4 linked regions of the Homo sapiens genome follow. The protein of the gene in region 1 purifies or fractionates together with the protein of each later gene. This does not show direct contact. Each region holds a gene or a part of one and is shown on either strand. Other genes may lie near its edges. The genes, in order: ADGRG1, TMEM184A, TMEM169 and ACKR3.

Region 1 (4,867 bases):
CTTTGGCACCTATGTCCCTGGCTACCTACTCAAGCTGAGCGCCATGGGCTGGGGTAAGTGGTTGGGCGGGGGGTGCCTCAGACCTGCCTCTCCCACTTGGCTCTGGCAAAACCCAGGCACCTGGTTCTGCCTCTCCACCTATCTCTCTGACTTCCCTCCTGGCCTCCTTCACTCATCCTCAGGTGTCCTTCACCTTGGCTGAATCAAGGTCCCCTTTAGGAAGAAGCAGTGAGCCCTGTCCCCAAGAAACACTTCCAAATTCTCCACATCACTCACTCCATTGCAAAGGGGATTTACGAGCAGGGCCACCGTGTGTGAATGTGCAGGTTGTGCACTGCTCAAAGGCACCCAGTTCAGAGATCAGAGGGGCTGAAATCCAGTCCCGCTCCAGTCATTTAATTCACTCGGGCTGGCAGTGGCCCTGCCTCAGGATCCCCCTGGACCTTGGGTAACAGATTCCCTGTGGCTTGGCATTTTGTTCTTGGCCAATGACTGTTCAATTCACCTGTGGCCAGCCCTCTTATGTCAGACCTACAGCCCAGGGGCTCATGATGCCACAAGTCTGTTTGGACATTGCACAGACCCCTCAACCTCCGCATGCCCCTGACTCCAGCTTGCTGCTCTTCGCGGGTTTGTCATTGGGCCCCTTCTTTGTCCATTCCCCCATTTGCATGAAATTCCTTTGGAGGTGTCTCTGTGTCAGGACTTTGTGTTTGGAGGTGGGCAGCCCCCTCTAGGGAGCTTCTAATCTCCACCGAACGGGCGAGGTCAAGGCCCAGTGCAGACGTCCCCTGATGGCAGAACTCTTGCCGTCCCTCCTAAACTGTCTGCCCCTCCCATCTCCCCTGTGACATCCAGCCCTGCAGCAGAGACCCACAGGCCTTTCTCCCAGGGGCCCCCAGGGTGACGAAGGGCAGGGCTAAGGTTGGAGGAGATGGCATCCCCTTATAGGAAACCCATACTGGAATGGGGAGGGGGAGGGTCCAAACTTGGGGGAACTTCCCCACCAGATGGGGCTGGGTGGGCTTCAGGAGCCCAAACTTCAGAGGGGCCCTTGCCCTCCAGACTCCCTGAGGCCAGCAGGGAATGGGCAGGCCTCAGAGAGCGGGAAGTAGAGCAACATGCATTGCCACCCTCAGGCTTCCCCATCTTTCTGGTGACGCTGGTGGCCCTGGTGGATGTGGACAACTATGGCCCCATCATCTTGGCTGTGCATAGGACTCCAGAGGGCGTCATCTACCCTTCCATGTGAGTGGCTGTGTGCAATGGGGGCAAGAAGGTGGGTCTCTGGGCACAGAGGCCAGAGTGCAGCCCGGGCCCAGGTCATGCTGGCCAGGGGACACCTGGGTTCCAGTCTCCTCGAGGAATTGGCCTGGCAGTGGCTGAAGCACTGGTCTAAGAGTCATGGAGGGTGAGAAAAGGCCTGGATCTACCACTCACTCACCAGGTGACCTTGCACAGGCCCCGGCCCTTCTCTGAGCCTCGGTTTCCTCATGCATGAATGGGGGTATGGGTTGGAGCAGATGAGCCTCACCACATTCCTCAGCAGCACCTCTCTGTCTCCCCATGCAGATGGGAAGACAGAGGCTCAGGGAGGGAAGAGATCCGCTCTTGGCCACACTGAGGGCTGGTGTGCTGTTCGGAGGCAGAGGATGAGTGGGGTTGAAGTCCAGTCCTTCTCCACTCACCTGATTCACCCAGGCTGGCAGCGGCCCTGCCTGTGGATCCCCTGAACCCAAACCGGAAGCCAGGGTTCCTGAGCTCCAGCCTGGGAAGGAATCCTTCCCATTGGCTCAGTGGTTTTGAAATTTTCAGCTCTTTATGTTGTGACCCAGTGATTTCTGCCTCACTTTTGTACTATCTATATTATTACTTACTTAACATTTTCCTTTAAACAATCTGACTTGTTAACTCAAATGTATTTTTAAAATTACATCAACACTGTAAATAGAAAACAAGCGCACTTGCTGTAAACAGTGGATAATCCTGAAAACAAACATGACAACCACAGCCCAGGAAATGCTGCCCGTGCTGGCCACACGCTGAGCCCTCCTGCCTTTGCCCGCAGGTGCTGGATCCGGGACTCCCTGGTCAGCTACATCACCAACCTGGGCCTCTTCAGCCTGGTGTTTCTGTTCAACATGGCCATGCTAGCCACCATGGTGGTGCAGATCCTGCGGCTGCGCCCCCACACCCAAAAGTGGTCACATGTGCTGACACTGCTGGGCCTCAGCCTGGTCCTTGGCCTGCCCTGGGCCTTGATCTTCTTCTCCTTTGCTTCTGGCACCTTCCAGCTTGTCGTCCTCTACCTTTTCAGCATCATCACCTCCTTCCAAGGTAAGGAGAAGACCCGTCCCTTGGCCCAGGCAGGGTGTCTACACATGGAGCAAGGGCAGGGAAGAGATCACCCAGGGAACCTGAAGACTTCCCTTCTCTGGGCCTCAGTCATCCCATTCATAAAATGGGGACATCCAGGCCACAGTCAACAAGTCTTGATTGAGCACCTACTATGTGCAGGCCCTGTGTTAAGCCACAGGGCTTATGGCTGAGCTGGTTGGGTGTGGGCCTTGTTCTTTTGGAACTCAGCTCTACTGGGGAAGACTGCGCATGAGCAGGCAAGCATATAGCCATCAAAGGTGGTCCCAGATAGTAGGGACATCGTCGTGAGCACGTGCTGCACAGGGCCTCGGCTGGGGTGGGGGACACCCTAAGAAGGGTGGCCAGGGAGGCCTCTCTGGATATGAGACGTGTGAAGACAAGAGAAGGATCCCCCCATGGAGAGATGGGGGGGCCTCCCTACTCCAGGCGCGGTCCACAGACCAGCAGCAGCAGCGTTGTTAGGAGCTTTTTGGAAACGCAGCCTCTGGGCCACCCGGGCCCTGCCACATCAGAATCTGCATTTTCACAAATGCCCAAGGGGTCACGTGCACATGATAGGATCAGGAGCCCTGGTCTAGGGGAAGGAAGCTCCAGGCAGAGGGAGAGGCAAGAACAAAGATCCTGAGGTTGGAACCGGTTGTGTGTAGGAAGGACAGTGAGGGAGAGCGTGGCCAGATGGCGGCGGGTCGGGGCGGAGAGGTGGGATCCCAGGGCAGGGTCATGATGGCTCTGGCTTGATGCCAACAGGGTCCCTTTCTGTGCATGTACCTGTGTGTGTACATTGAGGTGCACACACAGGCATGCACACCCCTCTGTTCCTGGCCGTGCAGAATGGAAGGGGGTTGTATGGCCAGGCCCAGGGGCTCTCATGGGGTTCAAGGCCAGCCTCCCATACAGGGTCACCCTAGAATGGGAGCTGGGAGTTGGTGGTGGGGAGATGTTACCACATTTCGGTTATTTAACATTCAAGCCTTCATTCCTGCCTGTGAGATGAGGGGACTCAGGATTGTAAGTGAGGCCCATACATTCACACAGACATTTACTAAGCTGTGGATACATCATAGTGCTATTAATTTGAGGGGTGCAAAATCTCACAGTGCTTAAGTGGGTGGACTTCAGAGCCTGTTCACCACAGTTTGAGCCCTGGCTCAGCCACGTCCCTTTACCTGAGCCTCCTGGGCCTCAGTTTCCTTGTTTACAAAAGAGAATAGTAATGAATAGGATGGGCCTAGGAAGTTTGTGACAGTGAGAGGCCACACGGGGACGCAGCACAGTGCCCGGCTCATAGGAGGTGCTCGCTGGGTCTCATGGGTGCCCGACAGCACGTGCTTGGCAAACACTATGGAGAGGTGGGGCAGACCCGAGTCACAATGGCTGGGGAGGGAGGAGGAGGGATGGGGTGGGGCTCCCCCACCTGCTGACCCCGTGCCCTCACTGCCCGCAGGCTTCCTCATCTTCATCTGGTACTGGTCCATGCGGCTGCAGGCCCGGGGTGGCCCCTCCCCTCTGAAGAGCAACTCAGACAGCGCCAGGCTCCCCATCAGCTCGGGCAGCACCTCGTCCAGCCGCATCTAGGCCTCCAGCCCACCTGCCCATGTGATGAAGCAGAGATTCGGCCTCGTCGCACACTGCCTGTGGCCCCCGAGCCCGGCCCAGCCCCAGGCCAGTCAGCCGCAGACTTTGGAAAGCCCAACGACCATGGAGAGATGGGCCGTTGCCATGGTGGACGGACTCCCGGGCTGGGCTTTTGAATTGGCCTTGGGGACTACTCGGCTCTCACTCAGCTCCCACGGGACTCAGAAGTGCGCCGCCATGCTGCCTAGGGTACTGTCCCCACATCTGTCCCAACCCAGCTGGAGGCCTGGTCTCTCCTTACAACCCCTGGGCCCAGCCCTCATTGCTGGGGGCCAGGCCTTGGATCTTGAGGGTCTGGCACATCCTTAATCCTGTGCCCCTGCCTGGGACAGAAATGTGGCTCCAGTTGCTCTGTCTCTCGTGGTCACCCTGAGGGCACTCTGCATCCTCTGTCATTTTAACCTCAGGTGGCACCCAGGGCGAATGGGGCCCAGGGCAGACCTTCAGGGCCAGAGCCCTGGCGGAGGAGAGGCCCTTTGCCAGGAGCACAGCAGCAGCTCGCCTACCTCTGAGCCCAGGCCCCCTCCCTCCCTCAGCCCCCCAGTCCTCCCTCCATCTTCCCTGGGGTTCTCCTCCTCTCCCAGGGCCTCCTTGCTCCTTCGTTCACAGCTGGGGGTCCCCGATTCCAATGCTGTTTTTTGGGGAGTGGTTTCCAGGAGCTGCCTGGTGTCTGCTGTAAATGTTTGTCTACTGCACAAGCCTCGGCCTGCCCCTGAGCCAGGCTCGGTACCGATGCGTGGGCTGGGCTAGGTCCCTCTGTCCATCTGGGCCTTTGTATGAGCTGCATTGCCCTTGCTCACCCTGACCAAGCACACGCCTCAGAGGGGCCCTCAGCCTCTCCTGAAGCCCTCTT
Region 2 (6,478 bases), on another chromosome or scaffold:
CACTGCAGCCTTGAACTCCCGGGCTCGAGTGATCTGCCTACCTCAGCCTGCTGAGTATTGGGACTACAGGTGTGCACCACCTTGCCTGGCTAATTTTTGTATTTTTTGTACAGACAGGGTCTCACTGTGTTGCCCAGGCTGGTCTCAAAGTCCTAGGCTCAAGGGATCCTCCTGCCTCCGTCTCCCAAAGTGCTGGGACTATAGTCATGAGCCACTGCACCTGGCCTAAAATTTATTTTTTAAATTGGCAAATCAAAATTGTATGCATTTACAGTGTGCAGCGCGATGTCTGATATGTGTGTTCGTGGGGAATGGCTGAGTCAAACCCATTAACGTCTCCATTATCTCCCATACTTAGCATTTCTTTGCGGGGAGGACATGTAAAATGTACTCTCTTGGCAATTTTCAAGCATAGAATACATTGTTATTTATAACAGTCACCATGTTGTACAATAGGTTTTTTTTTTTTTTTTTTCTGAATAAGTTCCTTGGGCATGAGTGAGGGTCCTGTTTGTTCTTAGCCTGGGAATGGGAACGCTCACTCATTCCTTCATTCAGCAGGCGTTTCTAGAGCCCAGCTAAGTGTCCAACCCGGGGGACGGAGAGGGGACACGTCCCGGTCCTGGGCTGGGCAGACTCTCAGAAGGCACATTGGCTTTTGCTGTGGGGGCATCCAAAGGATGTGCACCCTTTGATTCCTAAGAATTTGTCCCTCCCTAGGGGCCAGGCACGGTGGCCCACGCCTGTAATCTTAGCACTTTGGGAGGCCAAGGTGGGCGGATTACCTGAGCTCAGGAGTTCGAGACCGGCCTGGTCAACAGGGCGAACTCCATCTCTACTAAAAAATACAAAAATTAGCCAGGCGTGGTGGCGGGCGCCTGCAGTCCCAGCTACTCGGGAGGCTGAGGTGGGAGGATGGCTTAAATCCGGGAAGCGGAGGCTGCAGTGAGCACTGATTGTGCCACCGGACTGCAGCCTGGGTCACAGAGTGAGATCCTGCCTAAAAAAAAAGAAAGCCTGGGAAAAAGTATGGGTGATTATAGTAGTGTTTGCCTTTAAACCTTTCTAGATTTTCCACGTTTTTATTTTTTTTAATTTTTAATTATTATTTTTTTTATTGAGACGGAGTCTTGCTCTGTTGCCCAGGCTGGGGTGCAGTGGCGCAATCTCAACTCACTGCAACCTCCGCCTCCCGGGTTCAAGTGATTCTCCTGCCTCAGCCTCCTGAGTAGCTGGGATTATAGGCGCGCACCACCATGCCCGGCTAATTTTTGTATTTTTAGTAGAGACAGAGTTTCCCCATGTTGGCCAGGCTGGTCTCAAACTCTTGACCTCGGGTGATCCACCCGCCTTGGCCTCCCACAATGCTGGGATTACAGGTGTGAGACACCACGCCTGACCGATTTTCCATGTTTTCTGTGAGGATACAACTCAACTACAGGGTCTTTGAGACAGGGTCAGCCGAGCCTGGGAGCTGGGCGCACAGGGGCTCCTGGGGAAGGCCTTCTGGAGGAGGTGCATGCGTGGCGGTGGGCGAGCAGAGGCTACGTGCACCTGGCCGCTTGGGGTGCAGCTCAGGGAGTTGGGGGAGGTTGGAGGCAGGAACAGACTCTTATCAGTCACACGCTCCCCGATGGTCCCTGGGAGGGACGGCATGACCAGCCATCAGGAGACCTCTCCCGGGGCTGGCGCTGCCTGGCTGGGTGACCTTGACAAGCCACTGTCCTCTCCGGCCTCGGTCCTCCCATGTATAAAGTGAGGGGGATCCAGCCACTCTGTGTCCTGCCTGGGACTCCTCACTCAAGGGTGACTCTGGCGGTGGGCTCAGGGGTGGGACAGGGCCTGAACTCCAGCCCAAGGGGTCTCCATGAGCCCTGTCTTGACTGCGAGGCCCCATGAAGCTAAAGCCACACTACAGCCGCGCACACACAGCCGGTTCCCAGGATTACAGCGGAAAGACGGCCTCCTCCGGGAAGCCCTCTCTGATGGCCTTACAGGAAGGGCCTGCCTCGGCACTGCCTCCGCGGCTCTGCACACTCCAGGCCACACTCATACACGTCTACCGTGGGTTCTGGTTATCTGTTCACAGCTCACTGCAACCTTGAACTGGGCTCAAGCGATCCTCCCATCTCAGCCTCCCAAGTAGCTGGGACTAACAGTGCAGGCCCCCATGCCCGGCTAATAAGCAGTTAATAAACTGTCACTGAGATGCTCCCTCGGAGACTTGTGGCCACCGGTGTCCCTGCCTGCCAGTCTCCTGATGGCCCCCTGCCCCAGCTCACCTACAGATCCATTCCCTACACCAGTGCCCCGTGCACCCGGGAAGCAGCTCTGCCCTCAGCCCAGCCCTCCACAGCCTTCCTGGGCTCCCAGCACCCCCTGAAAGCCACCTCACCGCACTGGGGTCAAGGGCTCTGGACAAATCCCTGCAGCCGTGTGGCCCTCGCGGGCCTACACACGCACTCCCACCCCACCCCTGCGCACACCGCCCTGGCCTCTCTGTGTATCTGAGTCTCTCAGGAGGGTCCTGTCCCTGACTCCCTGCCCTCTCTGCCCAGCCCCTGCCCTCGGGCACCACTTCCTCCTTGCCCCTGCCTGGCCCTTCCTTGCCACAGCGCCTGGCCGCTTCTCTACCTGGGGGCTGTTCTGTTCCCACCTGGGGACTGCTCCGGGTCGGGGGCTGTGTGTGGCTTCGGGCTTGGGGAAGTTGCTTCTCGCCCATCTCCTGCACAGGAGTCCCGGTCCCTCTAACAAGCTGTGACCTTTGCTCCCCAGCTCCCTACAGAGCAAAGTCCAACCCCCTGCCAACCTCCCACCAGCCTTCTCCAGGGTGTCACGCCTCTGGAAGGAGAAGGCCCCTTCCCCTTTCCAGCTATGTGAGCCTGGGAAAGACCTCTGGTCTCTCTGAGACTCAGTCTTCTTGTCTGTGAAATGGGACCACACTGCAGACCTCAGTGAGCCGAGTGACGAGCCTGTGAAATAGCCAGGGGTGCCCGGTGGGCGCTCTGCCCTCAGCCTGGCAGAGATCTCCCCATTTTCAGGCCCAGCTCCCACATGCCACATCCTGGGGAAGCTCATCCCCTCCCCCGTGCCCTGGCCGATCCCACTTCTGACAGCGTCTATAGCAGCGGCACCCAGGGGGACCGGGCTGAGCCACGGCCACGTCCTGTGGAGACCAAGGTCCTGAAGGAGGCTCGGGGGCGGAAGGGCTTACCTGGTGGCAGGTGAGCACCAGGGCAGTCCACACGAAGATCCCCGAGACGCCTCGGGCCAGTGCGGAGGTGAGGAAGAGCCAGGGGGCCCCCTGGGAGCTGTTCCCCATGTGGTCCATCTGCGGCCCAGCTGGCACAGCCGGTGGGGGGCTGGGCTGCGGCCAGTTCGCTGACACCAGGGGGACGCCGGCTGTCTCCAGGATCCCTGAGACATTACTCATCTGCAGAGGGAGGGAGGACACACACCGGGAGGAGTGAGGGCAAAGGTACTGGCTCCCGGCAGCAGGAAGCAGCGGGGGAGGGAGGAGACAGTGAGACGGGAGCTGAGGCTGAGCCACCCACCAGGCCGCACCCCCCACACGGACACCAGCGCCAGGCCCGGCTCCCTCCCTGCTCCGAGCTCAGCCATCGAAGCTCACCCATCAACCACCTGCGACCTGAGGGTCCCACCTCAATTCCCCCTTGTAAAACCAGCTTCCAACTCCGAGTCTCAGGCTTGCAGGGAGCCTGCTTCTTAGGGGACAAAGACCGTCTTCCAGTGGGGCAGAAGAGGGGGAACCCCTGCCGCCCTGCCTGCCCGGGAGGGCTGGGGAGCGGGCGCAGACCAGCACTGCCTGCCCCGGCAGGAGGGGGTGTGCAGCCACCCTCATGGGAGGAGCCGGCCCTCACTGGCTCTGGGACCTGTCCACCCACCTGGGAGCCCGGCTTTGCTGGGGTTCTTGGCAGCCCTGGGTGCCTGTTCCATCTCCCACTAACCTGCTGGGGCCCTGAGTCCACCCTCTCCCACACTCGCAGCCCAGTCCAGCCTCCTCCTCTCCCTCTGGTCTGCGGTCACAGGGCCCAGCTCTACCTTTGCTGGCAGGAAGCACCTGGCCCAGTCCAGGGAGGCCTGGCCTCCAGGGAAGCCTAGCTGGTCATTCTCATGGCCACGTGGCCCCAACTGGAGGCCCCACTGTGGGTGCGGCAAGGCCAGGATCTGAAGGGCTGTGCCAGGCTGGGGCGGGGCGGCCAGTGCCTCACGTCCCCAGTGGCCCACCTGGGCCCCAGGCTGCAGGCCCGTCCCCTCCTGTCCCCTCCCACGGCTGACACCCTATCCTCCCGGTTGTTTGCTGGGTGGCAGCTGGCTCCCAGGAACCTGCTGGCCGCCTGGCGCCCTCACCTGCCTATGCCAGACGGCCAGGCAGCTGCCACCTGGTGGGGACACGTGGGAGAGGTCTGCGGCAGGCCAAGGAGGGCCGGGCTGCAGGAGGAGGGGTGGAGAGCTAATGGTACAGGGTTTCTCTGGGGGGTGACAGGAGTCCTGAAATGAGGTAGAGGCGGCAGGCACACAGCACTGTGGATATACTTACCGCCACCGAATCGTTCACTTAAACCTGGGTAAATTGATGTTATGTGAATTTCATCTGAATTAAAAAAAAAATCCACGCCCCAAGAGATGAGTTGAAAACATTTGTTTTCTGGGCCGGGCGTGGTGGCTCACGCCTGTCATCCCCACACTTTGGGAGGCCAAGGTGGGTGGATCACTTGAGGTCAGGAGTTCGAGACCAGCCTGGCCAACATGGTGAAACGCCGTCTCTACGAAATACGCAAAAATTAGCTAGGTGTGGCAGCGTGCACCTGTAATTCCAGATACTCAAGAGGCTGAGACAGGAGAATCGCTTGAACTCAGAAGGCGGAGGTTGCAGTAAGCTGAGATCACACCACTGCACTCCAGCCTGGGGACAGAGGGAGACTCTGTGTCCAAAAAAAAAAAAAAAAAAAAAAGGAAATATTTCTGGTTTTTGTGGATCAAGGCAGGAGAGGGGGAGTGACAGCCCAGTCCCTGGACCCTTTGGGGTCTGGCAAGGGGTTGCGGGGCCCTGAGGGTCCCTGTCACCCCCATGCAGAGGCCCCTGTGGAGAAAAAACTCACTCACCCCGGCTCCTGGGAGAGGGATGTGGGCCCTCAGCCCACCTCTTGTCCTGTTCTGGTTACGCTTGGGCTCATGCCGCTGGGGCCACCATTACCAAGTCCCGCTCCATGCCCGCAACGGATCCACACACTCCTTGTCCTTCATATCTCCTACCCTCCCACAGCCCTGAGCAACAGGGCTCAAGGGGTTGAGGCTGGAATGACTGGAGCCACTGTTCCCCTTTTATTTTTAATTAATTTATTTTTTGAGACGGAGCCTCGCTCTGTCGCCAGGCTGGAGTACAATGGCGCGATCTCGGCTCACTGCAACCTCCGCCTCCTGGGTTCAAGTGATTCTCCTGCCTCAGCCTCCCGAGTAGCTGGGATTACAGGCGCCCACCACCACACCTAGCTAATTTTTGTATTTTTAGTAAAGACGGGGTTTCACCACGTTGGCCAGGCTGGGCTTGAACTCCTGACCTCAGGTGATCTGCCCGCCTCAGCCTCCCAAAGTGCTGGGATTACAGGTTTGAGCCACCACGTCCGGCCTGTTCCCCTTTTAGAGATGGGAACGAGAGGCGCATCAACGCGTCCAGCATCCTTGAGGGGTCCGTGAGGGGCCCGGGCTGAGGCCCATCCTTCCCTGGGACACCCTGCCTGCTTTTCCCAACTCCTCCACTGACACTGTCCCTCCAGGGAGGCTCCCAGGTGGGGAACAAGCTCAGGAAGTCGTGCCCAGCTCTCAGGCCCGCCTTGCCTAACCTCCCCATCAGCGCCCACCCGGGCCCGGGCCCAGAGCCACAGCATGCACACCCTGGCTGGGCCCTCCTGGAGCCTGCCTGCTCCCCAGGCAGGGACCTTCTGGACCAACCGACCCTGCTCCCGGGTGACTCTGTCCTGCAGCCTCAGGCGTCACCTCTGGAGAGACCATCCCCGCTGTCCCATCACCCTCCTCACTGTGTGTGTGACTCCCTGTCCACCTGTCTGTGTTTGCTGCTGGTCCTCCCTCTGCAGGAGCTGCCAGAGCCTAGAGCTGTGCCCTGTCCATGCTCGGGGCACAGGGCTTGCGGGGTGGGGGCTGTCCTGCTGAGGCGGTGACCCTGTGGGCTAAGGTCTCCCTTTGGCCAGGCAGGGGTGCTGGAAGGCGGTCCCCAACTTCCATCCAGCTGCATTCCCACTGCAGCCACAGGTACTCCTGCCGGCCTCCCACCCGGCCTGCAGAGCCCCAGGCAGTCGGCTCAGCGCGTGTGGATGTCGCCCTCTGGCTGTGTCGGGATCACCGTCACGGACAACTATGAAGTGACGATGGCTGGGGGCCCGTTTGAAGGGTGAAGACTTTGGTGCCTGGGCATGCGCAGAGCTGGAAGGGACCGGGA
Region 3 (4,616 bases), on another chromosome or scaffold:
GACTTCCTGACCACTATAAAAATTAAAATATACAGGCTTTGTGTTCTGACAGAGAGCTGTTACAATGGTTATATGGGTAACTGAGAAAATAAGTAGAATATTAACAGAGTACAGATATGAAATAAAAGTTTATGTCCTGGCTGGGCTTGGTGGCTCATGCCTGTAATCCCAGCACTTTGGGAGGCTGAGGCGGGTGGATCACCTGAGGTCAAGAGATCGAGACCATCCTGGCCAACATGGTGAAACCTCATCTCTACTAAAAATACAAAAATTAGCCAGGCATGGTGGTGGCGCATCTGTAATCCCAGCTGCTGGAGAATCACTTGAACCCAGGAAGCGGAGGTTACAGTGAGCGGAGATTGCACCATTGCACTCCAGCTTGGGCGACAAGAGCGAAACTCCATCTCAAAAAAAAAAGTTTATATCCCAAACAGATGTGAGTAGTAAGATGTCCACTAATATTTTTCAACACTGCACAAATTAAGCTCTGGGTGGCCATTCCAAAATGGCAGAATGAAACTTTCACATCATCTGAAATTGGTTATTTTTAAGATTTAGAATCTTGTTTTATAGAAAATCATGGGTTTTATTCTTCTTGGATGTGAAGTGAAATGAAGGGTGCTACCTAATGTCAATAGACAAGATGACTTGGAAACACATCAGTGTCACCCTATGGGCCAGACATGGTTTATCCAGCTCAGCACATTATGGCTGCTAAGCAACTGGAAAATATAGTCATCTTCCTTGATATTCACCACGATGATTAGGCAACTATGAGCCAAAAGAATTGTTCAAATATGGTATTGAACTCTCCAGTTTCTCCTCTGATGGTCTCTGTGGTGTTTGCTGAGAGCAAAAATGAGATGCTTTGGTTCTGTTTGGTTCTGTTTTTCCTTCCTCTAGTCTAGGCTTTTACATACCTCTATAGAACCCCTTTGAAATGGTTTTAATTTACAAGCCTATTTCTTCCACTAGATGATGAGCCCAACTAGGATGAAGGCCATGTCAACTTTATCTAGGTATCTCTTGGGTATGATCTCATCATCATCCCACACTCTTCCATGGCACCACAGCCACTTTACCTGTGTCCTAATCACAACTTTTTGGCTTTTCCCATTGGTTTCCCCAACCCCAGAAAAATGGGACAAATGTGGTTGCAAGTTTCTAGTGTGGTTTGTGAAAACAGTCCACCTAAATAGAATTCCCCAAAATTAGTGAAGCATGGAAAGAGTCCAGACACAAGGATTCATATTAAAATCATTACATACATATAGGACAGCCATCATGCTCACCCTTTTTCTGCAAACCATAGCATTCAAAGCAATTTTGAAGAGCCTCAAAGACAAAATGAGCAAAAGTTAATCAGACTTTATTTTTATTTTCTTTGTCTTCATTTAATTGTTCATATCTCTGCTAATGCACCATAGAGCACCAAGATTAACACTAAAACTGTTGGGCACTTTTTTTTTCTTGTCAAGCTAATAATAGTTATTTAAAAAAAAAAAAAAGAGAGAGTTCCTCTGAAGGTGGAGCTCAGCACCATACATCAGGCAAATGTCCTGGGCTCTCTGTGGGGAGCATGACAAACTCCTCTGGTTTGATTCATCGCAGCAGTTCTCTCAACAGCTTTGTTTTGAGACATGAACAAGAAAAGAGCACCAGCTATTCTTATAAGGACCCAAATCTCCAAATTCTGCTGACCTCTTAGGAGTTGATATTTTGAAATTAGAAGGACACCCTTAGGAGTGATTTTTTTTTTTAAGTTCAGAGTCTGTTAATCTGTATTAATCTAGTTTACACTCCCTACAGGCCAGGTAGACACAAGTTTCTCAGCACAGCAAAGATCATGTCTGTGGTTAAACTCAGAAAGGTCTGAGGGAGTAAAGCTCTGAGTGAGGTTTTGCCAAACAACAGAAGGCTAAATCTGGCTTCTTTGTACTTAGGGCTACTGATCGCTGTTGGAGGAAACTTTGGCAGATGCAATTCCTCCCTTCCTGGTCTTTAATCTAGGTTAAATATCACCACCTCGTCCCACCTCCACCACCAGGACAAAGAGTTATGCTACTATTATAAATTGTACTCTCCTGTCCACTATTCCTTTCCAAAAACAAATCACATGACATTACAGAAGCTTAATTGCAAAGTACGTGAGGTGCTAATATCGATGTATAGCATATTCAAAGTATATGTAGCTAATATCTATATATAAATTCTCTGTGTAAGATTCAGGCCTAAATAAATAAATGAATAAACAAATGAATGAATAAATAAATAAATAAAACCATATTAGCAGTTTGGGGGTTCTGAATGTATTTAAATGATCATTGTGAGGCAAAGATTCTGACTTGCCTACCAAGATAACCATTCTTGCCTACAATCCCAGCATTTTGGGAGGCCGAGGCAGGCGGATCACCTGAGGTCAGGAGTTCAAGACCAGCCTGGGCACATGGTGAAACCCCATCTCTACTAAAAAAAAAATACAAAAATTAGCCGGGTATGGTGGCACGCACCTGTAATCCCAGCTACTGGGGAGGCCAAGGCACAAGAATTGCTTGAACCCAGGAGGCGAAGGTTGCAGTGAGCCGAGATAGTGCCACTGCACTCCAGCCTCGGCAACAGAGTGAGACTCCGTCTCTAAAGCGAAACAAAACAAAACAAAACAAAACCCAAATAACCATTCTTCCTTTTTCTTGCCAATTAGCGTGAACCCAGTATTTAGCTGAGAATATAGCTACCCAGCCAAACAACTACATTTCCAGCCTCTTTTGCTCATGACATCATGTGACTGAGGTCTTGCCAATGAGATATAAGAAGAATCGAGTGGGACTTCTGGGAAGTCTCCTTGAACAGGAAGGGTGTGTGCTTCTCTGCCCTTTCCTCTATTTTATCAGAAACATGGATGTGATGGCTGAAGATGTAATCAGCACTGGGATGTTGGGGATAAGGGTGAGAAGGGTCACATCCTACTAATGGTAGAGAAATAGAAGAAGCCTGGGACCTGGATTACTTCACAGGGTCCCAGGATGGTCTGCCTCCAGACTTCTTCTGCACAAGAAAGAAATACACTTCTATCTTGTTTAAGCCACTGATATTTTAGGGTTTTAATTCTATGCAGCTAAATCTAAATCTAAATGATACACACAAATCTTTACCTTCTGCTACACTGTGGTAGTCCAGCTTCCTAAATGTCTCACTCCATCCCTGTCTATTATCTTGGTGGATTTGGTTACCCCGAGGTTCTTTATTCTCCCTGACACATTTAGTCACATACTCCCCTCAGTTCCAGGCACCAGTAACACTTCCAGGCTCCCAAAACGACACACAGCAGAGTTCCATTGTCCTAAATAAATGGTGATTTTAGGGCAGGGAATCAAAAAGAGTTTGTCCATTGGGTGAACTGCTTTGGCACAATTGCTTGTCTGCTCCATGCCCTCCTGGAACCCTCAAGATGGTAAAACTGATCAGTATGGACTCTGATTTCCCAGAAGAACTGCGGAGAGTAGGGGGTAATTTAAAGAAATAATCTGCTGGAATTTTAAGATGATATATAGGCTACTGGGGCCAGAGGAGGGAGTAAGTTGTTGGGAGTTTAGACCGTGGAGGTTTCTACTTCTTGGATGGGGTCCTTGTTGGAGAGAGTGCTTGAGATATTGTCGGATTCAAGCAACTCCACAATGCTGTAGGGAGAACAGTCCTCCAGACCCAGCTTGCTGCAGAGCCAGCCACAGAAGCCTTTCTCCATGTCCCGGGCAGCTTGCCACCATGCTTCCCAGGACCACGAGAGCTGGACCACAGCAGCGTAGAGGCCGAGGGAAGAAGCCATGGCCATGATGAGCACTGGATAGAAGAGAACGAGGCAAGGGCAATACGAGATCTTGTGCCAGAAGGTCCTTTCCTCATTATACACGAGGAAGATGTTGTACCAGGTGATAGTGCCGTAGTAGAAAGAGACAACAAAAGAAAGGATGAAAACCACAGGCAGGCAGATCAGCGTCCAGAGGACCACATGGGGCCCACGGTCAGCTCCCATCTGGCAGGCCATTCTTCCTTCAGGCGTCGTTTCCCTTGATGACTCTTTAGGTTTGGTCAGTTCCTGCAGCTCTTTCTCTGTCAATGTGACATGGATGTCCACCATCTGACCCTTTTTCTTCCCTCGTGTGATGGTCCCAGTTAAGGTGACGTAGCGGCTGTCCAGAGGCAGGTTCCACATATCTGCAGGGTACAAAGGAGGTGAGAGTCAAGATCAGAAGAGTGGGCATTGCATCTCCATGTTGCACCCTCCCAGGCTGGGCATGAGGACAAGAGTAGCCTTTTTTACACCATCTGGCACAGTCCTGAGTCAGTGATTCAATGGCGGACTGAGTGGGTCTCCCTCGGGAGAGTGACCACTGGTGTTATTGCTCCCACATGAACTCTCAGTCCTTGTGCCTGGGCCCTGATAAAATTGTGAGGCAGGTTAAGCTTTTCACCTACTCTCTCCGCTTTTTGGGGCCTCAATCTTGGCACAATCTCTGTGGCACGGAGGAGTGTGACGAACTTTGATACAGACATGATGCAAATGATGATCCTATTTCTAGGTAACAAGTGCTGTGAAGATACTGGACTGATGGACGGCC
Region 4 (5,463 bases), on another chromosome or scaffold:
GGGCAGCCCCCAGGCTGCAGAACAGCAGAAAAACAGAAAAGGGCCAGACCAGTCTCACCATCCAGCGAGGCAAAAGCAGCAGCAAGAGCCACATGAACTGGGGTGGCAGAGGAGCCCTGCAGAAGGATCGACAGGTCCTCTCAGACATCCACGTAGACACACAAGCCTGAAAGACCCTCACCCACCCCAGCACTGTTAGCCCCCGGGAACCTACTGAAATTCTAGGGTAAGCGGGTGGGAGAGACCGCTGGATGGACCGCGATGGCAATTCAGCATAGCAGTTCAGTTGAATGCCTTTTACCGCCCATCTATTGCAAGGCTGAGCATGTGGACTGCAATTGATGCCCTCCTCCCCCTCCCCATTTTGAATTTACTACTGGAAAAGTGTATTTCTGCCTGAACTTGACCCCTAGAAGGCTCACAGCAAACATGCAAGCCATTTTTATCGTCAAGGAACACATATTTGGGTCGAGAACTTTCCCGATTCCATGTTGCCATCCTACCTACTCTTATTTTCCCTTCTTCTTGGTATCTTTGCCTCTTGTATGCTGTTATCCCACTATCTACATCATTGTTATCGGACCAGAATCCCACTGAAGACCAGGTGTATATATGCACCTGAGGATGTACATGTGTATCAAGAACATATTTCCAGTAAGTTACAGCCCTAGTTTCAAAACTCTAAGCTGTGAAGACCTTTGCAGGAAATAGGATTCCCCTGTAGTGCACTCGGTCTATGGGCCCCTGGGGACTGCAGGGCTGCCCATTGTGGGTCTGTGGGGCAAGGACTTGCACAAGGTGCTTTCCAACCTAGCAGCAGCGCCCAAGCCCACAGGTCAGACGAGCATCTGGGTCTGCCTTTGGGTTGGCAAACAGCTCTCTGTGCAGAGAGGTCTTGGCAGAGGTGGAGGTGGTGAGGGCAGTGCTGGGAGCCCAGCCCCTCTCTGAGCCCCTGCCCAGCTGACTCGTCTGTTGAAGTCTCCGCCATTCTTGTGGCTCCAGGTAGAGTTAGAGAGGGCACAGCAGGAACTGGCCATTCTGAGAGCACTCTTTCCAACCACTAGTAAGGACATGCGCAAGCTGGGGATTCGCTCATTGTGTGGCCTCAAGGGGGTAGCTGATTGGCATGGTTTAAATGAAAACTCTCAATAGGAAATATTGCCCCTGGAGGTGTTTACCTTAGCAGATGAGATTTAAGGGGCTGTGCCACTGGCCCTGGAAGCACACAGGTGGTACAGATGAGGACACCAGTCCTGCACCCTGAAACTCTCCTGTCTGGACGGAGAGTTCAGACAGGTTCAGAACAGAGATGGCTCTGGCCAGCAGGAAGTAGAAGCAAGTGGCACCTTCTCTGTGCCAGCCTTCTCTCCTAGCTGGACCCTAGCAATCATCCCCCACACCAAAAACACTATTGCCTGAAAATTTTTTTAAAAACCATGCAGTGTGCTCAAATGATTTTTTCTTTTTATATCATTTCAAACAAGTTAACCTGGTAGCTTTTGCTTTACAGCAGCACTCTTTTTCTGAGCATGTTCATGCAGGTGGCCTGTGTGTGCCATATATATCCATGAATTATTATCATGTGTGCTATTCAAGTGCCAAAACACACTTTGAAAACTGAGACTTGATGCATTTTTAGGAAACAAAAATCTTTATTAAAAAAAAATAACTTACAAATTGAGAGAACTCTCTGAAATGCAACTGTTCGTTGTGTGTGCAGATTTGCAGTCCAGAACAGTTTTTTGTTTATTTTAAAATGTAACTTTACAATACTATTAATGTCACAAACTGCATTACAAAGCAGTTTTCGTTCCATATCCCGTGCCGGTACAAAACACCACACAGATATAAAACTATGGTAAATAAAACATTTCAGCCAAGACTGGCATATATTTATATATTTATATATATTTATATATATATAATTTCAAAACAGCTAACAATTAGTGTCATCCTTAGTCAAAACTGAAGTCACGCTAACCTTAAAACTACAACACTCTGAATATATGTCAGCACTATGCCTCCCAAACAATATTTAAAATATATTTAACTTTCAAATACATTTATAAGGTACACCAATAGTGAGAAAATAAAGTCTTAAAATTTAAATACAAATCACCATATAAAAAATTCAGGAAACACAGAAAATCCTATCTTACAGAAGTCCAGGCAAGCCTGTCCTCAGCTGGCTCTGACGCACAGCACTGCTGTGCGACACAGCTCTGCCTGTTGCAAAACTGTCAGCACGCACAGCCAAATGACAGCTGCGTCATCAAGAGAAAGAGAGAATGGATGCAGGGGGCACGTGCTCCCCTCTTCACTCTACTCAAGCATCAAGACCCGAAGCTACTTTGCTTTGCTCTAGAAAACCATAGGGCCCATCACCCTGTTCAAAAACAAGTAAACCCGTCCCAGAGCCTCTCCAGGGCAGATCATTTGGTGCTCTGCTCCAAGGCAGAGTACTCCGTCTCTGAGACTCTGGAGGCATCGATGAGCTTGGTGAGCCCTGTTTTGGCCGAGTACTTGAAGATGAAGGCCTTCATCAGCTCGTACCTGTAGTTGCGATTGATGAAGCTGTAGAGGACAGGGTTGACGCAGCAGTGCACCAGCGACAGGCACTGTGTGACATGCAGGGCCGTGAAGAGGGCGTGCTCCAGCCGGCAGGTGAAAGGGATGTAGTGCAGGATGGAGAAGATGTCCAGCAGCACCGCCACGTGGTAGGGCAGCCAGCAGACAAGGAAGACCACCACGTAGGAGAAGATGATCTTCCGGCTGCTGTGCTTCTCCTGGTCACTGGACGCCGAGATGGCTCTGGCCAGCAGGAAGTAGAAGACAGCGATAATGGAGAAGGGAACGGCAAAGCCCAAGACAACGGAGACCAGCTCCATGCCGATCAGCCACTCCTTGATGCTGTGCTCGGGGTAGAAGGACCGGCAGTAGGTCTCATTGTTGGACGCAGACGTGACGGTCTTCAGGTAGTAGGTGTCAGGCAGAGACACGCAGAAGGCCAGCAGCCACACCAGGATGCAGACGACACGGCGTACCATCTTCTTCCTGCTGCTGGGGGTGTTGGTGAAGTAGGTGATGGAGAGGTAGCGGTCCACGCTCATGCACGTGAGGAAGAAAATGCTGCCGAAGAGGTTGATGGAGAAGATGAGGTGTGTGACTTTGCACGTGAGCTCGCCCATGGGCCACTGGTTGTGCTGCACGAGACTGACCACCCAGACTGGGATGGTGAGGACAACCCACAGGTCGGCAATGGCCAGGTTCAAGATGTAGCAGTGCGTGTCATAGCCTGTGGTCTTGGCCTGGATATTCACCCAGACCACCACGGAGTTGGCAATCATGCCGATGACGAAGATGAAAATGTAAATGAAGGAGAGCGTGTAGAGCAGGACGCTTTTGTTGGGCATGTTGGGACACATCACCGTGTCCACCACGATGCAGTCGCTGCTGTTGCATGGCCAGCTGATGTCCGAGAAGTTCCCTGGCTCTGAGTAGTCGAAGAGATGCAGATCCATCGTTCTGAGGCGGGCAATCAAATGACCTATGAGAAAACCAAGCAAACAAAAAAGATGGAAGAGGAAAGTCACTTCATTAGGAAAAACTCAAGTTTCAGGCAAAAATGCTTTTCCAAGGCCCTGATAGGCTCAGCTGTTTGGGTTTAGCTCTGTAATGTCTTTGCAAAGAAGGGAGAAAAAAAATTCATAATAAAACTCTCCAAAACAAAATAAATCATACTCTGAATCTAAATCCATGTGGTGCTCCAAGACAGAAACTGTGTTTGCTTTCTCCATCTTTTCATGGCTGTGTTCTCAAGACACCGCCAGCATGGCTGTGCCCAGTGTGTGAAATCAACACAGTACAGGGGCCAAAGAAACGTCAGGCAGCTGAGCCCCGGCCACCGCGATGCTGATGGCCTGCTCACTCTCAGCAGGGGACAGTGGAGCCATTTTATCTAGGTCCCCAAAGAATGGCAGGGTTGTCCTCTCCTGGCACTGCTGTATTACAAGTGTCCTGCTTTGGTGTCTTAATGAAAGCATTTCAAATCCTCCTCCAAATTTGCATTTATAATGTGACTCAGCACTTTTTACTTGTCTGCTAAATTCACATATAAACCTGGGTCTCAGGCGGCCCCAGTGTGCAGTCATAAAGCCTCTGGAAACACAGTGAGCCTACGCAGGGTGCCCCACAGCTTAACTGCGCCCCAAACCTGAAGACTCTGGGTTGGCCGTGTGGTTTTCAACGAAGGGCAACCAACCAGCTGTCTCAAGCTTTGGGTCAGCACCTGTTTTTCCATTCCTTTATTTGTTCAACTGCTTCAACAGCAAGGTGTGCCAAGACTCAAAACACAAAAATCACCACCTGCTGCATTTCAGGAGGGCTGACCATTTTCCCAACTGTTTTCCCTGCTGACCTGAGGTGAGACCAACACTCCATCACCATTTCACTCCCAGCCAGAATTCAGCCACGGGGTACCATTGTTATCTGGCACTGATTTCTTCAGATAGACTGACAGGGGCTGTCTTCTACTGTCAGTCCGCCCATGGGAAGGCCCTGAAATCCCTCCAGGCCACAGTCCTGGGTCAGCAATTAGCCCTGCCTGAACCCCACTGTAAAATGAAAACCTCAGCCCAAGGATGCACTGTTGACAGTGACATAGTCAGGTGGTTGCCCTTCCCCCTCACCTGTCCCAGGTAATGACTGGCCTAGAGTCAAGACATTATTTACCGAGTTCATTTAAAGTGGATTCCAGGTTACATATGAGAATTTCCTGGAGGATCAAGGACAAGGGTCAGGGGATCAGGGTCCGGGTGGCTACGCTAGCGGTATGCAAAGCCACAGCTGGGAAGCCGCCCACTCCGAGATCAGACATTCCTGGGTTGGGATTCTGGCTCCTCTATTCATTAGCATTTACCTTGAGAGTTAATCTGTCTGCATCTACCTCCCCAGGACAGCAGCACCTATCTCACAGATACCCTAAGAAGAAAGAAGAAAGGGCCTAATTGAGAGCTTGGCCCTAGCCGATGCTCAATAAAACGTCACCCCCTTCTCCCTCCCTGGCCAGGAAGAAAGAACCCTGGGGATTCTCCCACCTAAGGGAGCGGTTTTTCCCTTCAGCAAAAAGCAGAACCTTGTTTAATTCTATTCCCCTGGAAACCTGGCTCTCACTGGCTGAGTAGTAAATGCCCCCGGGGGAGCTCGCACAGAGACTGGGTTGTTTGATGGGCTTCTCCTTTGGGACAACTTGAACAGAATCCCTGAAAAGTGAGAAATTTCGCGGCCTCGGCTCCACAGCCTCCACATTCACAGCAGAGGACCTGGCGTGAACCCCACTTAGCGGAGACTGTTGCGGGCTTCTGGGCACTTCCCTCTGCGGGATGTAAATGACTGTGGGGTCCCCTCCTCGTGACCTAACCTGACTCAGTGTCCTCCACGGCTGACAGAAAGGGCTGGGCCTCC

What was found.
Region 2: the proteins of ADGRG1 (region 1) and TMEM184A purify together in Homo sapiens (co-immunoprecipitation; one large-scale study listed by IntAct). This does not show direct contact.
Region 3: the proteins of ADGRG1 (region 1) and TMEM169 purify together in Homo sapiens (co-immunoprecipitation; one large-scale study listed by IntAct). This does not show direct contact.
Region 4: the proteins of ADGRG1 (region 1) and ACKR3 purify together in Homo sapiens (co-immunoprecipitation; one large-scale study listed by IntAct). This does not show direct contact.

The regions. Positions count from the first base shown.
Region 1 is NC_000016.10:57,659,629-57,664,495, forward strand, and holds part of ADGRG1 (adhesion G-protein coupled receptor G1 isoform b precursor), read left to right. Parts: coding exon 1-53; intron 54-1,139; coding exon 1,140-1,248; intron 1,249-2,068; coding exon 2,069-2,337; intron 2,338-3,823; coding exon 3,824-3,954; 3' UTR 3,955-4,867. UniProt on the Homo sapiens protein: Adhesion G-protein coupled receptor (aGPCR) for steroid hormone 17alpha-hydroxypregnenolone (17-OH), which is involved in cell adhesion and cell-cell interactions.
Region 2 is NC_000007.14:1,552,052-1,558,529, forward strand, and holds the start of TMEM184A (transmembrane protein 184A), read right to left. Parts: upstream 4,155-6,478; 5' UTR 4,063-4,154; intron 3,434-4,062; coding exon 3,215-3,433; intron 1-3,214. UniProt on the Homo sapiens protein: Acts as a heparin receptor in vascular cells. May be involved in vesicle transport in exocrine cells and Sertoli cells.
Region 3 is NC_000002.12:216,099,516-216,104,131, reverse strand, and holds the end of TMEM169 (transmembrane protein 169), read right to left. Parts: intron 4,213-4,616; coding exon 3,590-4,212; 3' UTR 1,349-3,589; downstream 1-1,348.
Region 4 is NC_000002.12:236,578,524-236,583,986, reverse strand, and holds the end of ACKR3 (atypical chemokine receptor 3), read right to left. Parts: intron 4,981-5,463; exon of another isoform or gene 4,919-4,980; intron 3,548-4,918; 5' UTR 3,522-3,547; coding exon 2,433-3,521; 3' UTR 1,633-2,432; downstream 1-1,632. UniProt on the Homo sapiens protein: Atypical chemokine receptor that controls chemokine levels and localization via high-affinity chemokine binding that is uncoupled from classic ligand-driven signal transduction cascades, resulting instead in chemokine sequestration, degradation, or transcytosis.